Linked DNA regions of Homo sapiens: regions 2, 3 and 4 are each reported to be linked to region 1. The links are microRNA targets in miRTarBase. Many come from high-throughput screens and were not tested one by one. Region 1 holds a microRNA gene; each other region holds the end of a gene's coding sequence.

Region 1 (3,087 bases):
TTCATACAATGGAATACTACACAGCAATGAAAATGAAGATACTATTATTACTCTCAACATGAATGAATCTCACAAATAGTTGAGTAGGAAAAGCCAGTAATAAAATAATACACACTGTATCATTCCATTTTGTCTAATGTTTAAAAATAGGCCAAATTGGTCTAGGGTATTAGAAGCCAAGATTACAGTCAATTTGAGGGAGGATAATGCCTAGAAAAGATAATGAAGGGAGCTTCTGGTATGGTAGTAGTTTCTGCCTCCCAATCTGGGTGCTAGCAATATGTAGGTGTGTTTACTTTATGAAAATTCATCAAGCTCTCTGATTATAATTTGTGCATTTTTCTGTCTGTATGCTATACTTCAATAAAGATAGATTTATACTGAGTTAGGAACAAAGCTCAATAACTATAATTCTAGGCTGAGCTGCTAATAGGATTTGTTAAACAATTTAAACTGTGCCAGTCAGATATAATGATGCGAAATTAGAAAGGTAAAAGGAAGAGAGAGGCTATTTCCCCTGCCTATTAGTTTTCCTTCCTTCCTTCCTTCCTCCCTTTTCTTTCTCTTCTTTCTCCTTCCTTCTTTCTCTTTCTCCTTCCTTCCTTCCTTCCTTTTCTTTCTCTTCTCCTTCCTTCCTTCCTTCCTCTTCTTTCCCTTCCTTCCTTTCTCTCTCTCTCTTTTTACCTTCCTCCTTCCCTCCCTCCTTCTCTCTCTCTATTTATTTATTTTTTGAGAAAGATTCTTGTTCTGTCCAGGCTGGAGTACAGTGGCACAATCACAACTCACTGCAGCCTAGACCTCCTGGGCTCAAGGATCCTCCCACCTCAGTGTCCCAAATGTTTGGGACTTCAGGCATGCACCAACATGCCTGGCTGCCTATTAGTTTTCACTGGTAGTTGTTGATGTACGTGCAACATTAAATGTGGTTTTTAATGACCAGACTTTCTGTGCCTCTGCATTGCCACTAACTTCATCTGTGAGAAATGACTGTGATGCCAGCAGTGGACTTTATAGCTTCCTGACCTCTAGATTGTAGCTGTGTGGACTGAACTGCGAGCCCAACAGCATCCCTCTTAATGCTCCTACCATTAGAAGGGCTGGAAGAAGGCATCTCCCTCAGCCTTCTTCCAGCTCTTCTAATGGTAAGAGCATATAATTTTTAAGCATATAATTCTTAGCATTCAGTACCTAGAGAAGTGTCTGCACTGAACCCCAACTGATATATCAGTTAATAACACAACTGATAGGTTATCTAGTAGGTTTATGGTTGGTTGTAAGAATCTTTGGGAAAGAAAATTACCATTGGCAATCCTACCACCTAGGATCATCATTATCATGGGAAAGTTCTGCTTTAGAGGCAACCTAAATCTATTTTGAGGTCCTGAAAATGCATTTACTTCACAGGATATGCTGGTTTCTGCTGCCATTCAAAAATTATTCTTAAGGCATTCTTTGTTCTCTTTTCACTAGCTAAATAATGCCGTGCTTTTAACTTTTCTTTATGTGTTCAGCAGCTTTTCCCAGTTGTGGATATTTGAAAAAAGTATTCATATAAATACTGCCTGTTCTGGTAGGATTAGCTGTCCCTTTCTTTTGGTTATATTCCCAAGTTCATTCTTGCTTATCTAACCAAAGCCCTACATTGCTGACTCAAGTTTAGTTTATGGTCCAAGCCCAGTATCATGTTACTATTAGCCAAGATTTCCCATGGGTTGAGGCAGACTTGTAGAAGATTGAAAAATAAAACTTACTGGCCATAAGTAAGACTTTTTATCTGGCCTTCCAGTACAGAACATTCTCTAATATAGCAGCTTATAAACAATGAGAATCAGAAGCCTAAAAAAATTAGTTAATAGCCAAACAGTGACTGAATCATGGAATTGTACAGTTAGAATGGACCTTAGAAGCAGTCTATATAAGCCAGGTATAGTGGCTCATGCCTGTAATCTCAGCACTTTGGGAGGCCAAGGCAGGAGGATCTCTTGAGCCCTGGAGTTTGAGACCAGCCTGGCCAAAATGGTGAGACCCCATCTCTACTAATTTTTTTAAAAAGTCTATATACATACCAGAACACAGAGCTCAGATATGTATGCAGGATTCCAGTCCGTGCTGAATACTCTTCCAGTATGAGTACTCTTCCTACTCCTCAAGGTGTGTGGCCCTCAAAGCAGCAGCATCAGCACTTACCTGGGAGCTTGTTAGAAAGCCAGAATCTCAGGCTCCAACACCCACTGAAGCAGAATTTGCATGTAACACCCCCACCCCTTCTTGATTTGTATGCATGTTGAAATTTGTGGAGTTAGAGACAAAAGCACCACAGGTGCATGTCTTACTATTTAAAGTCTTGCCTAATTATATAACATAGAAACCTGATCCCTTCTGGACAAGGCCTGTATTATTACAGGTCCTGGTCTAATAGAGTATTTGAATAGCTGGGTTAAAGAAAAAGAAAACTCTCTTTAATAATCTTTGGAAAAAGAGGACATTTATTTGAGCTATGCTAGTTTTTAATGTACCTATTCAGATTTTAATCCATTAGAAAAATTAATAGCCTATTTGGTAGTAGCATGTCCTGAAAAAATAAGCTGAATAAATTGAAAGTATTTAAATGGATATTTAAACTCTGCAGCCATCGGTGATTTAGTTTTCAATTACATAAAGGTAATTACACTAGAATCCACCTCATTCACCCTGCCGTGAGAAAATGCTGGAGTGTTGTAATAAGCCAATGCTTTCAGGCAGTGACTGGTCTCCACTCCTTTTTGGCTGGGACCTGAATTCATTTGCTTTAAGCAGTTTAGGGTGTATGCTAGGAATATAAATTATAGAAACACCCTTTGTGACCCTTTTTACAAATGAAGTTGCATCACTATGAAGGGTGTATGTGAGGCTATAGGCCCAGCCTCTCAGATTGGGAATAGCTGACACTGCATGCAGATTTGGCCTGCTAGGTAAAGGCGGGACGGTGGTTTAGGACAGTGCCCCAGCTGGGCTCTTCCTAGACCAGTGGTTCTTAAAGTGTGCCTGCAGAGGAGGCTTCGGGGGTGCTGGTAATGTTCTGTTTCTTGATCTGGGTGCTGGTTACAT
Region 2 (3,087 bases), not on the chromosome of region 1:
GACTCATCTTCACTATCGGCACGTCCAACACCACGGGCGAGTCGGACACCGTGGTGTGGAACGAGATCCACCACAAGACCGAGTTTGGATCCAACCTCACGGGCCACGGCTACCCGGACGCTAGCTACCTAGACAACGTGCTGGCTGAGCTCACAGCCCAGGGCGTATCCGAGGCTGCAGCCAAGGCTTGAGGCCCAAGGCTGCCCACCTTCCCTCCTGCTTTGCCCCTGGTCCGGCAAATGCCTCCTTCGCCAGGTGTGTCCTGGTAGCCCAGGTTCAGGGCTGGGGAGGAGCCTGCGGAAGGGGCCGCAGCCATTCAGGGGACCTGCCTGGTGGCAGCTGGGATGAAGAGAGATGGCATGTCAGGCTGGCCCCGAATCATAGCTCCCTGAGAGGGCCAAGCAGAGAGTACTGGAAACCTCCCTACCAAAAAGACAGAGACCCGCCCCCTCACACACAAACACACATGTCCTGTTGAACTCATGCACGCACACCCACGTGCCTGTACTTGCCCCCAGGCTGGAAGAGAAGAGACAGAAAGACCCCATGACCCCCCCATGTGGATCCCCATCTGTGTCTCAGTTGCATCTGTACAGCCTTGTCTGCAAACTGGAGGATGCGGGGCAAGCCCTTAGGGGCCTGCCAGGGCTCGGGGGGCAAAGAGGGACTCGGGAAACTCAGTGTACCCCAGATGCCTCACCCATTCCGTGTCATCACCCATGTCTGCCACCCACTGATTGGGCAATTGTGGGCCCATGGGGTGGAAGCCCCCAGATGACTGAGCAGTTCTACAAAAGAATGGCCAGCACGAGCGGGGACTAGAGGGTCCTGATTTTGTGTCTGTGCCTCTTCATCTCTCTGGACTCTGATCTCCTTCTCCCTTCCCATCTCCAGGCCTTCTGTCTGTCCCAGATAAAGGCGCTGTTCTCCCATCCTCCCTACCCCATCCTCTCCACCAAATCGCTCCCAATTTTGAGAGCCAAAGGCTGGCGCTTCTGACTTCAGGAGCGAAAGGAGGAGGCCTAGTTTGGGCCGATGTATTTTAAAGCAGAGTGGACAGCAGAGAGTCAATTTCCCTTTCGTTGGGAGTGGGCAGTGGGGTGGCTAATTGTCTTCGGCCAACCAGGGGCCTGTTGCCCAGGCAACTCACCAGCTCCGCCTCTGCTGATTGGCTGCCACGGTGGGAGTCAGCCAAGATTTAAAGGGATGCCAGCGATTGCTCTTTTCAAAACCTACCAGTCCCACTGTGGGTGGAGAAATAAATGGTCTTTCTCCTCCTCGCCTGGTCTTTTCCTGCCAAGAGAGGGGTGGGTGGCTCTGTTCCTGGGGGCTGCAGTCAGCCCCGTTGGGGAGTGATGGCTTGCAAGAGAATGACTTCAGGGTCCTTGCCTCGGGCTGGAAGGGGTGGGGGCGGTGAAGCAGTGGCAGACCCTCCTAGTCCTAGTCTCCAAGAATGCAGAGGTGAAAGTGCCCTTCTCTTTCACAAGAGCACAAGGCAATGCACACATCTGCTCCCTGGCACAATGACAAGAAACAAGGAACTCAGGTGCAGAGCTGGGAGCCTCGAGGGAAATACGGAGGAGCTGGGAGACACTGTGATCAGCTCATCAGGATCTCAGAGCTTGTCAGGACCCTGTCCTTGGGGAGGAGGGTCAGGTTCTAACTAGGGAAAAACAGGGATGGACCCCAGCCTTAAATCAGCCTCTCTGCAACATGCCAGGACGCCCCTGTAGTTCTGGTGGATGCTGCGGCTTCGGGCAACCCCTGCTGGCCACCCTCGGGATAGCGCCGTGTCTTTCCTGGTCCACTTGATCCCCTGCCAGGTAGGCTTTGGTTTCTGTCCCACCCCCTAGTGACACAACACCGGAAACGAGTCCTTGGAGGCCCTTCCAGTTCTGCCAGTCACATGTTCCCAAACATTTGTACTCCGTGGTTCATTCTCAGACAAAACCTCAACCCAAACTCTGGCATATAAAATTGCAAGCCAGGCACTGACTCACACCTGTAATCCCAGCAACTAAGGAGGCCGAAGCGGGAGGCTCATTTGACGCCAGGAGCTTGAGACCAGCCTGGGCAACATAGTGAGACCCCCCATCTCTACAAAAATTTAAAAATTAGCCAGGCGTGATGGCTTGCACCTGTAGTCGCAGCTGCTCTGGAGGCTAACGTGGGAGGATCACTGAAGTCCAGAAGTTTGAGGGTGCACTGACCTATGATCATGCCACTGTACTGCAGCCTGGGCAACAGAGTGAGACCCCCAACTCTAAAAACAAAATAAAATAAAATTGCCCATTCCCCAGGCCTGTGGTCCTCAAAGCTGATACTCATCCAAATGACCTACGGAATCTGTTAAATAACCCTGATTCTTGCCTTCATATACCCTCAGATTCTGAGTCAGTAGCTGGCTGGGCCTCAGAAATCTGCATTTCTAGCAGACATTCTAGCGGGTGGTCTTTGGCCCACAGTCAGAGAAACTCCTCCCTTGTTCTTGAACTACCTCATTGGAATCCAGTTTGAAAACCACACATCTAGACTTTCCCTCCTCTTTTTATACAGGGTAATCTGAGACCCAGAGAGAGATAAACAGCCTGGCCCAAGGTCTCCCAGGCTCCAAGGGTCTGAGTTTGGCACACTGGACCCCCACCCAGCCTTGGTTCTTCCTGAGGGCACCTGATTCTGGAAGCTTGTGGTTGGAGTCCTAGGCCAAGGGCAGGGTACAGAAGAATCAGTGAGGTTATAGGGATTAGCAGACATGAAAACAGGAAGGAGTGAGGCCATTTAGTGCCCATCTGGGGCAACAACATCACATGGGCATCAGGAATTCAGGTCCAGCTGTATCCAGCAGCTCAGGGCCAGGCTGGCCTCCTTGGTATGGATAGAGGCCAGTTTGGTGAAGTAGAGACCCCAGTCTCAGTCAAATAAGTCAGGTTCCTTATCCTATCCACTCCAGTCTGAATCAAGCCAGAGGGCAAGTTTCACTCAGTGCAAGGCTGGCCCCTGCCAAAGGGCTTCCATGCCCTGAGTTCTGGACTCAAGGCACACAGGACTAGGCACGTCTCTGGGAGCCTCCAAACCACAGAATCAAAG
Region 3 (3,087 bases), not on the chromosome of region 1:
CACTTCAGGAGGCCAGGGTGGGTGGATCGCCTGAGCCCAGGAGTTTGAGACCAACCTGGACAACATAGTGAGACCATCTCTACAAACATAAAAATAAATTAGCTAGGCATGGTGGCACATGCCCGGGGTCTCAGTTACTGCAGAGGCTGAGGCAGGAGAATCACTTAAACCCAGGAGTTCAAGGCTGCGGTGAGCTGAGATCACACCACTGCACTCCAGCCTGGATGACAGAACAAGACCCTGTCTTAAAAAACAGACAGACAACAAAAGAATGTGTCTCTGAAAAAGGCCCACGTCTGTGGCTGTTAAACAGAGCAGCTCGTCTCCTGAGGCTGGAGCGATGGAGCTGGAAGGGCCTCACAGCTGTCCGGGCCAGGCTCCTTGCTGCACAGGTGGGATCTGCTGGCTCCAGAGAGTTCTTCAGACCCTGCAAGAGGGATCTGAGAAGAGGGACCAGGCCCCCCGGTTCCCAGGCCCTGACTCTCCCACTGTTTGTCCTTCCCTGATCAGAGCAGATAAACATCACCGTACCATAGATGGGACTTCTAGAAATTCCCCACACAGGACTGGGTTAATTCTAAGGTATTGCTTTAGCTCTGTGAAGAAAATGTAGTCAATTTGTAAAATTGAAGTCAATTTGTAAAATGACTCAATTTGTAAATGAAGTCAATTTGTAAAATATCACAGACTCCTTATTTTTATCCTTATTTTCAGCATCCTCAATGAGTGCAAACTTTCTTGACATGTCTATTTTTGAAAAATCTTTATTGCTTTTCCTGATTGTACAACAAATGTAAAAATTCAAATATTACAAAATGACTTAATTTAAAAAGTACATTTTAACATGTTATAAAATAAATGCCCATTTCAAAAAATTCAAGTATCATAAAATACATGACGTAGAAAATGAGCCCTCTGTAATCTAGCCCAACCCCCGTATCCCCCAGGATTACTGCTGTTCAGATCCGCGTGTTTCCTTCCAGACCGTCTCTGTGCACCCGCCACCCACACGGCTGACATGAGCTCCATATGATCCGAGATGATAGTAACGCTGACCAACGGAGCAGGGTTCAGCTGCCGATGCCCTGAACAGCTTCCAGTTTCTACACAGAAACGCTTTCCTCATAAAAGCCTGAAACTGTGACACAGTTTTGCACTATGTAAATGTATCAGGTTGAATCATGAAATAAATGATCGCTCACCATTTTTGGCCTAGAAAACAGCAGTTTCACGTGGTTCAACGTGATAGCTGTTCAACAGACATTGGGGGGTTTCCTATTTCTTGCCATTATAAACAATTCAGCAGGTCAGGTGCAGTGGCTCATGCCTGTAATCCCAGCACTTTGGGAGACCGAGGCGGGCAGATCACCTGAGGTCAGGAGTTCGAGAACAGCCTGGCCAACATGGTGAAACCCCGTTTCTACTAAACATACAAAAATTAGCTGGCCCTGGTGGTAGGTGCCTGTAATCCCAGCTACTTGGGAGGCTGAGGAAGGAGAACCACTTGAACCTGAGAGGCGGAGGTTGCAGTGAGCCAAGATTGCATCACTGCACTCCAGCCTGAGCGACAGAGTGAGACCCTGTCTCAAACAAACAAAAAAAAAAATCAGCAGTGAATGTCCTTGTATGTTCTTTACGGAGTATAAACATCGTACCCCCAAAGCATGACACCTCTTTTGGGCATTTAGAAGAGTCAAGAGGATGGAGCTGCCCATTTGCCATGGAAAGGGAGACCCAGCAGAGAGCTGATACATAAACAACTTGTCCCTCAAGCAAGGTGGCCAACTTCAGCCATGACACCATTTGAGTATGGTGACCACATTACATGAGCAAACCCAACGCTGGTGAAACCAGAGAACAGAAGAATTCCTCAGCCCAGAGACAATTCTTATCCCTACTGACCCGTATGACCAGGTACTCACAGACATCCAACGAGTACCCCAGAGCTGTCCTCTGGAAGTTGGGCTGTCAGAAGGTATAAGAAATGATTCAGGCTGGGCGCAGTGGCTCACACCTGTCATCCCAGCACTTTGGGAGGCTGAGGTGGGCGGATCACCTGAGGTCAGGAGTTTGAGACCAGCCTGACCAACATGGTGAAACCCCGTCTCTACTAAAAATACAAACATTAGCCGGGCGTGGTGGCACATGCCTGTAATCCCAGCTACTCGGGAGGCTGAGCCGAGATCGCGCCACTACACTCCAGCCTGGGCAACAAAAGTGAAACTCCATCTACAAAACAAAACAAAACAACAAAAAAAACCCCAACAATTCAGAAATGTAATGAAATCAGATTTGGAGGAAACATTTTTTAAGGTTTTTTCCAGGAGCTACTGGAGTGACCAAAAAAACGAAAAACAAAAAAACAAAAAAGGCACCTGTTAAAATGATGCCCACGTCAGGCCTCAAACAAAGACCAGGACGTGGTGTGTACGTGTCACTGGCGTTTCCGCACAGGCTGCTTCCGCTTCAACCTTGTCTGGGGTTTGTAGATTCTGCTTGGGTCACAGTTGAGCTTGTGGGTGGTTTTCTTATGGCAGACAATGTGCACTAGTTTTAGGTTCTCTGAGGTAAAAAGCAGGCCATAAAAATACTCCCAGTCCACTTCTCTTCCATCTTGTTCCTTAATTGCTTCCACCAGTGTAGGAATGATGGTGCGTTTCTTTTCTATTCTGCAAAGTAAGGTTAGAGACATCATTTTCTGTGGTCACAGTGCCACAGGCAACAGGTCATAGCAGTGTATTGCAGTCACAGCTCTTCACAAATTCCCCTAAGTGCTATCACGGACACACGGCCGCACCTACTGGCCAGGTTTGTTGAGCAGAGCCTGATGCAAGCAGCCTGGCTCCTCTTACTTTTTAAAACTTGACTTGTGGCCGGGCACGGCGGCTCACGCCTGTCATCCCAACACTTTGGGAGGCCGAGGCGGGTGGATCACTTGAGGTTGGGAGTTCGAGACCAGCTTGGCCAACATAGTGAAACCCCATCTCTACTAAAAATACAAAAAATTGGCTGGGCTTGGTGGTGGGCACCTGTTATCCCAGCTACTTGGGAGGCTGAGGCAGGAGAATCACTTGAACCCTGGAGGTG
Region 4 (3,087 bases), not on the chromosome of region 1:
CTTGCCAAATCATTCACCTTCAGGGTCCAAGGAGGAAAACCCCCACCAGAGCAGCCTTGCTTTGTCTTAATGTCACATGGATGTCCACACTCAAGGATGATTGTAAAGCCGGCAGGATGATGGCACCTCAAACCCGCCAGCCAGCTCTGAGCTGGCGCTTGTGATTTGCGGCCACGGGCCTTCTCACTTGCTCTGTGGGAAAACGGCCCTGTAGTCTGTTTGGGCTACTCCTAACTCTGCTCTCCTTGTCTCTGCAGCCTCCGTGGGAGTTCGATGGATGATTGGTGTGACGGAAATTGACAAGGGCTCTGCCTACGGCAACTCTGACAGCAAGCAGAAACTGAATGACTGACTCAGGGAGGTGTCACCATCCGAAGGGAACCTTGGGGAACTGGTGGCCTCTGCATATCCTCCTTAGTGGGACACGGTGACAAAGGCTGGGTGAGCCCCTGCTGGGCACGGCGGAAGTCACGACCTCTCCAGCCAGGGAGTCTGGTCTCAAGGCCGGATGGGGAGGAAGATGTTTTGTAATCTTTTTTTCCCCATGTGCTTTAGTGGGCTTTGGTTTTCTTTTTGTGCGAGTGTGTGTGAGAATGGCTGTGTGGTGAGTGTGAACTTTGTTCTGTGATCATAGAAAGGGTATTTTAGGCTGCAGGGGAGGGCAGGGCTGGGGACCGAAGGGGACAAGTTCCCCTTTCATCCTTTGGTGCTGAGTTTTCTGTAACCCTTGGTTGCCAGAGATAAAGTGAAAAGTGCTTTAGGTGAGATGACTAAATTATGCCTCCAAGAAAAAAAAATTAAAGTGCTTTTCTGGGTCATCTGTGGTGTATGTTGACATGGACCGCTGCCCCTCCATCCTGCCCTTGCCCGTGGCTTTGGTGTTTCAGATCCTACTCACGGGAGGCAGCTGCCGCGGAGGTGTGGGCAGCTGAGAGGGGTGGGCAGGCCAGCACAGCTCCTGGCAGGAGACACAGGTCCAGGAGCCCGTGAGCATTTGTGAGAGCAGAGATGGCAAGCACGTGCGTGGAGACCAACGAAGCGTGTCCCTGGCACACAGCAAGGGAGAGTTTCGCTCGGTCTCTGCAGTGCAGTCTCCTGGCGTAAGTCTTGAAGATGGACCCAACTCCCTGAAGAAATGGATCTTGAAATTGAACACAAACATCATGAACGTACAGCCTGGGCATTCTGCAGTGATTTGTGAGATGAGCTTGCATCGACTGTTCCTCTCAGCAGTGACAGCCAAAGTCACCCCTGATAAAATGCAGTTTCACTTTATAAAATGCCTCGCCCCTTCCCAGCATGTAGAGCTTGTCTGCAGCCCTAAAGGAGCCAGGTCCTGCTCTGATGAGGGTCAAATCAGAGCCGACATCCCATGTACAAAAAACCCCCAGGCTTCTGCCTTCCTTCCGGGCTCCTGTCTGCTCCCATTTTACTCCACGGAATAGTTCTGCCCTGTAGCATCTCCAGCGGCCTTTGCAGACTGCTGTCAGCCAACAGGTGCCAAAAATGCAAAAGAAGAAGAAACTAAAAGCAGTGCTATTTTTGCAGAACAAATGCTAGCTATTAAATCATCTTAGGCCAAGACACCAATGGCACTTGGACCGATAGGTATTTGGAGCATGAGTTAGGAAGGATATGTCTTTCTCCAGGTGCGCAGCTGAAAGTTGCTGAGAAAAGCTGCCTGTGTTGCTGTGGTAACATGAGAAGGAATGAACAGCTCTATACAAAAACTGGCCACACATTATAAGGCCTATTCTATGCAGTTATGTTTTTGGCTATTTGCTCATTTAGTCATTGTTTATCAACCAAACTAGGTAAGCCAAGGAGTTACAAGACAGCTCTAGAGAAGCTCCCTCTGCTTACAGGACAATAATGCATTGTTTGTTTGTTGATACAAATGAATTATTTGAATCCACAGAAGTGAAAAAGGGAAAAAATCCTGGCTGACTTGTGGGAAGAGCGTACTGCAGAGCCTAGGGCCTGAGTTAACTCGCTGGCGGCCCTGCAGGCAGGCTTGATGGGAGCGCCCAGCACATCTGCCCACCCTGCACAGGGCATGAAGCACCGTGTGCAGAGATCTGTGGGCAAAAGCCCAGGACGTGACCTTAGGCAAGAGGGGTCCTTGGAGAAGTGGAGGTGTGCATGGTGTGTAGCCTTGCGTGTCTGTGAGCACGCCCTAGTGGACCTGCGCCTGGATTATCGGGCCAGTCTCTCGGAGGGGTCCGTGATGCTGAGTTACGCCATTCACCTGAACTCTGCAGCTCATCGGCTGTAGGATTTGGGTGAGACACTTTTCCTTGCTGACTCATTTCCCCATCTGCAAAATGGGGGTGACGATATCTACCTCTTGGGGTGTGTCAAGGGTAAAAGAGCACACTTTAAGAATCCTAAAGCACTAAGCCAAGGATGAAAGACTAGAAAGCTGCCTCTATGTTGCTACTCTCAAAAATGCTCAGAAATTTTCTTGTCGTACTAAAAATGTGTTATTTTTCTCATTTTCATTCTTCCATTCAACACAGAAGTAATCTAAGTAAGTTCTAAAAACATAGATCCGGGGGCCCACAGACATTCAATTTTCTTCTGAATTGGCTCTGGTATCACACAACACACAAGCAAGCAAACAGCCTGCCTGCTAGGGCCTTGGGTTCCAGGCTGGAGGAATGCAGGCAGAAATCTCTTAGGAAATAACTAAGTGAGCGCCAAGTTTTGAATTGCCTTAGAGCCGAAAGAGAATGTGGCGTGCTGGGGAGAGATCTGGACCTCTTTCTCATCAGTCATTTGACCTGTCCACGAAGAACAATTTTGTTATGCAGCCTGGGAACCTGGTTTCCTTACACCCTGCGCCCTTAATGACACAGACAACCACGGGTACTCCTGGACGGAAGCTCATCACGCCTCCTCAAATACCTTCACCCATGTTCAGGTCACACGGAGGTCACCATCTCCTCAGCACACAACAACTGCTTTGGTTCCCAGGGTTATTTTTTCTACGAGTTGAAAACCCACGGAGCCTAAGCCATCTTTTTGTCCCCTAAGGAGAGCCCCATAGACTAAGAGCTACACTTCCTGTCTGTCTTTCCCACCTTT

Evidence for each region. The annotated mature microRNA hsa-miR-6512-3p reads UUCCAGCCCUUCUAAUGGUAGG and lies in region 1 at 1,082-1,103, opposite strand. An mRNA with a match to its seed (bases 2 to 7 or 8) in the 3' UTR can be bound and repressed. Matches are read on the target gene's strand: a 7mer-m8 pairs with bases 2 to 8, a 7mer-A1 pairs with bases 2 to 7 and ends in A, and an 8mer does both.
Region 2: miRTarBase lists DTX1 as a target of hsa-miR-6512-3p. Seed matches in the 3' UTR shown: 8mer at 518-525.
Region 3: miRTarBase lists DFFB as a target of hsa-miR-6512-3p. Seed matches in the 3' UTR shown: 7mer-m8 at 2,199-2,205 and 7mer-m8 at 1,555-1,561.
Region 4: the mRNA of AGPAT4 is a reported target of hsa-miR-6512-3p. Seed matches in the 3' UTR shown: 7mer-m8 at 2,651-2,657.

What each region holds. Positions count from the first base shown.
Region 1 is chr2:177,312,730-177,315,816 of GRCh38, forward strand. MIR6512 (microRNA 6512) reads right to left here and starts at 1,153; the gene lies at 1,077-1,153. The region is part of intron 6 of LOC100130691 (Putative uncharacterized protein FLJ44553); the gene reads right to left.
Region 2 is chr12:113,096,749-113,099,835 of GRCh38, forward strand. It overlaps DTX1 (deltex E3 ubiquitin ligase 1), which reads left to right. Exons shown (of 10, transcript NM_004416.3): 10 at 1-1,277. The coding sequence ends at 191. RASAL1 (RAS protein activator like 1) reads right to left here. Exons shown (of 21, transcript NM_001301202.2): 21 at 2,530-3,087. Among named protein-coding and RNA genes, the nearest start is that of RASAL1, 37 kb to the right of the region's middle. RefSeq lists enhancers at 744-1,285, 1,502-1,761.
Region 3 is chr1:3,883,089-3,886,175 of GRCh38, reverse strand. DFFB (DNA fragmentation factor subunit beta) reads right to left here. Exons shown (of 7, transcript NM_004402.4): 7 at 747-2,669. The coding sequence ends at 2,435. Among named protein-coding and RNA genes, the nearest start is that of C1orf174, 16 kb to the left of the region's middle.
Region 4 is chr6:161,133,805-161,136,891 of GRCh38, reverse strand. AGPAT4 (1-acylglycerol-3-phosphate O-acyltransferase 4) reads left to right here. Exons shown (of 9, transcript NM_020133.3): 9 at 258-3,087. The coding sequence ends at 352. Among named protein-coding and RNA genes, the nearest start is that of AGPAT4-IT1, 27 kb to the left of the region's middle.